Regions from separate parts of the Homo sapiens genome. Here region 2 is linked to region 1. Evidence: fine-mapped expression QTL. A gene starts in region 1. The other region holds a variant in brackets. All regions are shown on one strand. Distances are between the middles of the regions. Region 1 holds the start of PHYKPL (5-phosphohydroxy-L-lysine phospho-lyase). Region 2 overlaps COL23A1 (collagen type XXIII alpha 1 chain).

Evidence for each region. PIP is the estimated chance that this variant, and not a neighbour inherited with it, causes the effect.
Region 2: its variant is the best candidate, but not a certain one, in a credible set for the expression of PHYKPL in tibial nerve (GTEx, PIP 0.88).

Annotation. Positions count from the first base shown.
Region 1 is chr5:178,230,282-178,234,662 of GRCh38, reverse strand. It overlaps PHYKPL (5-phosphohydroxy-L-lysine phospho-lyase), which reads left to right and starts at 1,861. Exons shown (of 13, transcript NM_153373.4): 1 at 1,861-2,171; 2 at 3,140-3,258. The coding sequence starts at 2,113. LOC112267937 (a long non-coding RNA gene) reads right to left here and starts at 625. Exons shown (of 3, transcript XR_002956238.2): 1 at 1-625. RefSeq lists silencers at 1,627-2,036, 2,117-2,436 and an enhancer at 1,699-2,237.
Region 2 is chr5:178,265,306-178,269,686 of GRCh38, reverse strand. It overlaps COL23A1 (collagen type XXIII alpha 1 chain), which reads left to right. Exons shown (of 29, transcript NM_173465.4): 7 at 931-957; 8 at 2,354-2,380. Among named protein-coding and RNA genes, the nearest start is that of PHYKPL, 35 kb to the right of the region's middle. The variant A/G (reference allele first, on the strand shown) is at 2,074.

The DNA of each region.
Region 1 (4,381 bases):
GCCCTGGGTTCAAATCCTGACTCAGCCACTTCCATCCCCTACCCTCTTGGACTCCAACATTGCCTAGAGGGCCAGGCATGAAATAAAGGACAGATGAGTGCCTGGCACAGGGCCAGAGACAAGGAGTGGGCTTTTCTGAGCAGGAAGAAGGTGAGGCCTCCTGGTGTTCTGTGCCATGCTATAAGATACTCCTGGCCCAGGAAATGGCTCAACCTGGTCTGACCTCCAACTATATCACCTCTTGACCCAGGAGCAGGTGAGATGTTAGCCGGGCCCAGCTACAGCCTTCTCACCCTCTGCCTTAAAGCAGGAAAAGCCCCTGAGCCAACCTGATTCCTCTGAGCTGCACGGGGCCACAGCTGTGGCTGGAGTTTGGGCTGCAAGACAGGGCTGAAAGGCGGGGCCCAAATAGGACTCACACACACACAAATACACACACACACACACGGTCTGTGAGGTCTTGATCCTCAGAAACGAAGTACAGGCTGGGTATGGTGGCGTGCACCTGTAGTAGCAGGTACTTGAGAGGCTGAGATGGGAGGATCACATGATCCCAGGGAGGTAGAGACTGCAATGCTGCACTCCAGCCTGAACAACAGAATAAGACCCTTTCTTTAAAAAAAAAAAAAAATACAGGCCACAAGCAGTTAACCTCGCAGTTAATTTGGGAAGAATTTTTTCCAAAAATCATGTAAAATATTCAATTCAGCTTTACAGTTAAAAATAAGAAATTCCATTCTTTTAGGGAAGATGAAAAAGTCCTGTTGCATGGATGGTGGTGATGGCTGCACGACGATGTGAATGTACTTTTGCCACTGAATTGTATCCTTAAAAATGGTTAAAATGGTAAAATTTTGTTATGTATATTTTACACAATAAAGAAAAAAGAAACTCCAAATGTTCTTTAATAAATGCCTTAAGCGGCCGGGTGCGGTGGCTCACCCGGCCTGTAATCCCAGCACTCTGGGAGGCCGAGGCAGGCAGATCATCTGAGGTCAAGAGTTCAATAAATGCCTTATGCATCTTACAACTGTATTGGGAAGAGAAGAAGAAATCAGCAATGAGGGAGTGAAGCAGAGGCCTGGGAATCATGATGTGGACAGAAAGAAGGGACAATCAGGAGCCTCCCCTGCACCTGCTGCAGTCCCAGGCCCGTGTTCCAGGGTTCTTCAAGGCAGAAAGCCCCAGTGCCTCACCCCAGGAGGGGGCTTTTCTCTCATATCCCAGCCCCTTGGGAGGCTTTTTCTTCTCACTCCCTGGGCTGGGAGTCAAGAAGACCTCAGTAGGAGTCCAGCCTCTGCAGCCTTGCTGCGTGTCTGACAACAAAACCCTTTCCCTTTCTGGGCTTCAGGGTCACCGACATGTACCACAAGGAGGATTCCCAACCTCTCTTCTTGCCCAAACGCTGCATGATTCTCTCAGCGACGATACAGCTCGTCCGGTTCACCCTGCCTAGATTCTAGCAGGAACTATGGTGCCCTGAAGGTCAAGCCCATGGTGATCTCCTTGGTCAGCCCCAGAAGGGACCCTGGGCTCTCCTTCTGCTCTTCCTGCTGCCCCTTCATGGGGCTGGGAAAACCTAGGACCTGCTTCTCCCACCCTGAGGCCCCTACTGTGTACCAGGCCCGGGTAAGGTACCAGTCACATACTCGCACTTAGGCCTCACAGTTCATCCCATTTTATGCACAAGGCGACTCAAAGACTGAGTCTGGCCCAGAGAAGGCCTGCAGGAGCTCCGAGCCCCGCCTGGGCGCCGGGAGCAGGGGCGGGGTCGTCCGGGACCCTTTCCCGGAAGGGAGGCCGCAGGGGCCTGCGGGGCGGGGCCTGCGGGGCGAGGCCCGGGGCGCGTCCCGGAACCAGAGACGGGGCAGCGCTCGAGTTCCTGCGCGGGACTGCCAAGGCACGACCACGGGCCGGAAGGCTGCCAGGCCCAGTGGGCAAGCGAAGAAATGAACCACCGCAACGCGGGCGCTTCGGGGCGGGGCCGAGTGCGAACCTGAGCCCCAAATCCCGACCCAGGCAGGGGCGGGGCCCGGAGCGGGGCCTTGGAGGCCCAGCCCGCGCGGCGACGTCTCCGCGTGGCGTCACGGCACCGACTGACGGCCACCCACCATGGCCGCAGACCAGCGCCCGAAGGCCGACACGCTGGCCCTGAGGCAACGGCTCATCAGGTACCCGGGCGGGGGGCGGGCGGCGGGGGGCGCGGGGCTGCGCGGAGAGGCACGCGCACGCACGACGCACGCACGCACGCACTACGCACGCGCCTCCGGCTAGGAAGCCGCTGCTACCCATCCCGTCCGGCCGCTGCCCCGGCCCCGCTGGAGCTTCTAGGGCCCGAGGCGGGCGGCGCCGTTGGGCAGTCCCGGCGGGTGGTCTCCGGGGCCGCCTCCCCGACAGCGCCGTCTCCAGGCCGCCCAGTTCAGGAGACGGCCCCGCCCTCACCGCTGTTCGGCTGTGTCAGCCTCGCTTGGCAGCCTTTACTCCGGAGAAGACCTTCACCCTGGCGCCTGAGAGGACCTCACCCAGGGTGGCCCGTCAGCAGCACCTGGGCCTGGCTCGAGAGTGACCTGGGAGGGGGCTGAAAGGGCAGACAAGGGAGAGTCGGGGGAGTCGGTTCACAGGCAGCACACTTGACCTGTGAGGGGGCCCTCGGTGGGACGGTGGGTGAGGTCGCCTCCCACTGGAGCTTAGGGCTGGCACCCAGCGAGGGGCAGCAGGGCCACGTGGCTGGCAAGGAGCTGTTTAGGGCTGAGAGCCAGGCACCTAATGTTGGTGCCCTGGCCCATCCCATCGAAGACACGCGGCCTTATGGAGTCCCCATGGGACGGGGCAGCCACCTTTTCTCAGGATCCGGGAGACTGACGCGGACACATGCAGAAATGAGCAAGGAGGCCACAGAGGCTGAAAATGCTTTCAGAAACAATCCGAAGTTTCAGCGACTTGTTACCCCATCTGCTTCCTGCTTTGCAACCACCTGTGGAGTGGAGAGACAAGGCAGGGAAGCAGCACCTTGCCCTTCCAGCTCTCATTTCCCCCCCGCCACCAGAAACTGGGAAGGGGTGGGCGGGGGTCTGCGATGAGTAGACTTCACCCTTTCGGTCTTCAGACATGGCTGTCCACTCCTTGCCTGTCCCCACAGCTCTTCCTGCAGACTCTTTTTTCCCGAGGATCCTGTTAAGATTGTCCGGGCCCAAGGGCAGTACATGTACGATGAACAGGGGGCAGAATACATCGATTGCATCAGCAATGTGGCGCACGGTCAGTATCACACCTCAGGCTGGCAGGGCAGGAGAGGAAGGCAGTGCTGTGAACCTGGTCCCAAGGTGACCTGAGATTGCCGAGAGGTGTGGAGAACCTGGGTGGAGTTGAGGCACTGTCAGTATGCAGAGGAGGCTCAGCCTTCGCAATATAGCTGTGGAATTCTGCAATCTGGAGCTGTGCTAAACCAGGCAGGGGTCAGCAATCTAGGTCTGTGAGTCTAGTTCCACTTGGGACTGATGATGAGCTCACAAAGTGGCAGATGGCCCAGCTGTGACCAGCAACGTAGCACAGTGCTGGCCAAGTGCTGGGGTCATGGCAGTGCTTCAGCCCCATTGGCCATCTCAGGTGCTAGGCAAGGGAGCTGAAGTAGGAATTCAGTCATCTTGATGAGGCTGCCAGAGCTGATGGAAAGAAAGGGAGTCTGAGACTCAGCAGGCACATGGAAGATGAATAAAGTTGAGGTTAAAAAAAAAAAAAAAGCAGAGACTCTAGTCTTAGACTGCTTGGGCTCAAATCCCTGTCCCCTACTTACTAACTTGTGATCTCGGGCAAGTTACTTAATTCTCAGTGCCTCAGTTTGCTTATCTGTGAAAGACATAATGATACTAGGTACCCACTTTAAGGTGTTTGGAGAATTAAGTGTGTTAATTTATGTAGCTTGCTCTGAATGTGCCTGGCACATGGTGAGCTCTCAGTACATATTCACTGTTATTATCCTTGGCCTTTGACAATCAAGATTACCACCAGCCCCCTTGGCTGGTGAAGTGAAACCAGTTGACAGTCACCCCCCACCCCACCTTTGTCATACAAGCCTCAAAAGGCCTTCCAGCCTGGGCAACATAATGAGACCTTGTCTCTACCAAAAAAAAACTTAAAAATTAGCCAGGCATGGTGACTGGTGTCTATAGCCCCACCTGCTCAGGAGGCTGAGGTGGGAGGACCACTTGAGCCCAGGAGTGTGAGGATGCAGTGAATGCCATGATCACACCATACACTCCAGCCTGGGTGACAGAGTAAGGCCCTGTTAAAAAAAAAAAAAAAAGTCCTCCTTAAAGACATGGGCTTTCTAGACAGGGTTCTTCTGCTGAAGCGGCTTTCCTTCTGCCAGAATCTCAGGAAC
Region 2 (4,381 bases), 35 kb before region 1:
GGATAGTGGATGAATGGGTGGATGGATGGATGAATGGATTGGTGAGTGGATGGGTGGATGAATGGATGGATGGATGGATGGATGGATGGATGGATTGATGGATGAGTGGGTGGGTGGATGGATGGATGGATGGATGATGGATGGGTGGATAGATGGGTGGGTGGATGGGTGGGTGGATGGGTGGATGGGTGGATGGGTGGGTGGATGGGTGGGTGGATGGGTGGATGGATGGGTGGATGGGTGGATGGGTGGGTGGGTGGATGGACGGGTGGATGGATGGTTGGATGGATGGGTGGGTGGATGGATGGATAGATGGGTGGGTGGATGGGTGGGTGGGTGGATGGATGGATGGATACATGGATGGATGGATGGATGGATGGATGGATGGATGGATGGATGACTCATACAGGGATGGACAGATGGAACCCATACTCCAAGGAGCTGCTACCATTAAAGAAGAGAATGCTTTTTTTTTTTTAAGAAATAAGAAAGGAAAAAGAAGAAGAGAATGCCTATGGAGAGAGAATCTCTGTCTACTGCCTGCTTCTCAGATTCCAGAAAGATGGCTTGGGGGCAGTGGTCTCCCACTGACAATGACAGGGCGGGTGCTGAGCAGTAGGGAACTGACCGTGTGTGCTCTCTGGGAGGAGTGGCCAGTGCATGTGCCCCTTTCTCTGCTGCGAGGATGCCAGTGGGCCCTTGCTGGTCACCCGCAATTCCCCCGTATCCCTCATGCTGAGGACTGAGATGTGGAGCTTCCTTGGGCCAGCCAGGGCAGCTCTCATTGAGGGCTGAGAGCTCATGTGTAATTTTCCACTCAGCCGCCCAGCATCACGGGCCCTTCTGCCCTCAGAGGTATAGGGAAGCCAGAAGGGGAGCCAGCCTAGGCCCCTCACTCAGGTCTGTTCTTTCTCCACTTTCCTTTTCCAGGGACTTCCAGGCCCGAAAGGGGAAAAGGTAAGTGATGCCAGAGGCTGTGCAGATGTGGTAGGCAGGCGAAGAATCCCAGAAACCTGCCTCCGAACGCCAGTTCCAGTGTGCCCTTGAGCACATCACAGCCCCTCCTAGAGCCTCAGTTTCCCCATCTGTAGAGTGGGAATCACAGTGCCTACCTTCTAAAATGATTACAAGGCTTACATTTGACAATACGGCCTGCCCAGAGAGTTGAGTCTTGAGTTCTCCTGGGACCAAAGCATAACCAAACTCGGAGGCCCGGTGTTCCCAGAATGACGAGTGTCCAGAGGACTTCATGGTGAAGGGGGGTGCCAGGAGGGCTTGGGGATTGAACCATGACTGTTAATGGTATTCTCTGTGGGGAGGACACCCATCAGGAAGACAAGGCGGACAGCTATCTCTGCGGCCCCTTGGGAGGAAGGCTTCCTTGGTATCAGGCACTAAAGCCCCCTAGAAAACAGGGACCAAGTGTCTCAGAAAGGGACAGAAGAGACCTGTGTTACCCACGGTAAAATCAGGGGAGGGACCAGAGTAGGCCTAGGTGTGCCAGGGCCAGCCGGGTGCTCCCACAGCTGGACCATGTCCACCCCCGACCCAGAATTTGGAAATGGGAAGTGAGATCTGCAGATGGGCCCTGCTGTGATTCCGCAGCTCAGGCCAGGCAGGCAGGGTTCCCGCCCAACCACCAGGGCTGCGGGAGCCGTGGGGAGGCATGGGAGCTGGTGTTCAGAAGCTCGGCTTTGCATTCCAGCTCCACCACCAACTGTGTGACCTTGGCCAAGTTGCCGGGCTGTGTGGGCCTCAGTTTCCCCATCTGTAAATTAAGACCAATCTCACGGAGCCACAGGAGAGATTGCATGAGGTCATGGTCTCAATGTTCTTGTCAATGAAGAGACTAGTGCAGTTGGCAGGTGTCCTGATTACCTTCCTGCCGGCCTTGGCTGATGCCACCGTGTCATAGAAGTGATTCCATCAGGGGCTTTGAAACCAGAGAGAACTGGTGTCTTGGTGTCTATTGCTGCTTAATGCACTGCCCCAAAACTTGGCCGTGTAAAGCAACATTTACTCATTACCGTCCCTTCCAGAGGACACAGTGGGAGGGGCTGTCTCTGCTCCACA[A/G]TGTCTGGGGCCTCGAATGGCTGGGGCTGCCCCCTAGATAAGGGGACACCTACCTGCCTTCAAGTCCTGGATCTGCTAGCTGTGTGACCTTGAGCAGGTTAAGTGGCCTCACTGTGTCTGCTTCCTCGTTGGAAATGGAAATAAAAATAGGGCCTGCCTGCTATTTTTGTTGGAATTAAGTCATACCATGTCTATGAAGCACTGGGCACAGATGCCCGACGGGAAATGTGAAGAAACGATGAAAGCAGTGGTGATGCCTCTCCCTGTCTTTTGTTCCCAGGGTGCACCAGGAGACTTTGGCCCCCGGGTAAGAACCAGGCATGACCTCCCTCACTGCCCACATGGTTTGTTTTGTGTAATAATGAGGCATAACTGGCGCTGCTTCTGGGTCCCAGCTCCCCGCAGCTCATCACAGAAAGAGGCCAAGAGGGCTCTTCCCCACCCATAGCACCGGTGGAAGCCCCCAGGGACCTGGGTTGTGGGGCTGCCCCTCTTGCGCAGGTGGAGTGTCTCTGGAAGACGGCCAGGTCTCCATGCTTACCACTGTGGATGCTGGACAGTGGGGCTGGCACGTGACCCCAGACTGGAGACAGCGTCCTGAGGACAGCTGGCACCCCAAAAAGAGGGAAGGCTCTGGGGTCAGCAGAACTGAGCTCAAAGCTCAGCTCTGCCACCTGCCAGCTGAGTGACCCTGAACAAGTCACTTTGCTCTCTGAGACTCAGTTTCTTCAACTGTGAATGGGGGAACAGCCCCCACCCCAAGAGGTTGTTATGGGAAAGAAAAGGTAGTGGGAGCCGCAGTGCGGAGAGCGGGGCTGCAGCTTGTGGTCAGAGCTGGCCGGGCGCCTGCTCCGCACCTCCGCGGCCCTGAGCTGTGAGCAGGAGCAGGGAAGGGGGCTGGCCAGGCCAAGCCCCTGAGCTGTGAGCACGAACACAGCTGCTCTGTGCCAGCCACATAAAGCTGGTGAGATTGTTCTGCAGTCAAAGAAAGGGCGCTCATGCTGAGTTTTAGCTGCTGAGAAAAATCCTTCTGCTTGCTTTCCTGGTGGGTGTGTGGAGCTGATATTCCAAAAGGGGATGCCCTCTCTTCAACAGACTAGAAGTCCTGAGGCCCAGAGGTCATGAAGAGTGGATCTCCTCCCAATCCCCCAACCCTCCTCGTGGATACCCTCCCTATGGTCCCAGTGTCCCAGTCATCGGGAACACCACCCCCCAACACACACACACATATGCGCACACACACACATGCACACACAAAGTTTAGTGGCTTAATGGCCGGGCGAGGTGGCTCATGCCTGTAATCCTAGCACTTTGGGAGGTCGAGGCAGGTGGATCACTTGAGGTCAGGAGTTTGAGACCAGCCTGACCAACATGGTGAAACCCCATCTCTACTAAAAATACAAAAATTAGCCGGGTGTGGAGGTGTGCGCCTGTGGTCCCAGCTACTCGAGAGGCTGAGGCAAGAGAATTGCTTGAACCCAGGAGGCAGAGGTTGCAGTGAGACGAGATGGCACCACAGCACTGCAGCCTGGGTGACAGAGCGAGACTGTCTCCAAAAAAAAAAATTTAAAAAGTAGTGGCTTAAGACTCCAATTGCCATTATCTCTCATGGCCCCTGGGTAAGGGTTAGGCTCTCTTGGGAGGTTGCAGGCAGCCAGGCCGGGAGCCCTGGGTGATGGCACCGTCACATGGCCGCAGGTGGCGTGGATGCTGGTGGGCGCTCAGCTGGTAAGCAGCCATCCTTGGAGAAGGAGTCTGCACACCTGATCACCTAACTGCCTTTCTCTGGGCTTGGTTAAGTGGCTTTGCCTCCAGGTTTCAAAAAGCCTTGTAGTTCTTCAGATCACCTTCCTGCCTTTCTGACCACACAACCTATCTGCTGACTAGATGGTTTTCCCACGGCTCAATCCGGGCTTTATAAGTAGAGACCATCACCTGTACAATCGCCGGATCCTCAAGGTAGACTGGCTGAGTGGGGGTCTGGACCTGATGGCTTGCTGTGTTACCCCCAACTCACCCCACGTTTGCAGGGTTAGACCTCAGCCATCCAATCCCTGAGGGAGGAGCAGGCAGGCTGGCCAGGAAAGAGCCTAAGAACCTCTCCCAGGATCTGCTCCAGTGTCAGGCCCATTTTCTGCCTTAATAAGTAGAGTCTAGGCCAGTAGTTCCCAGCCTGAGGCCCTTTATAAAAGGAGCAGCAGGGAGCTAAGGGGGTGTCTTCAAATTCTTCCTGCTTCAGTGCAAATTAAAACAGGAATCACCCGCCACCATCACCACCCATACCTGGTGACCTAACCAAACTGTCAGT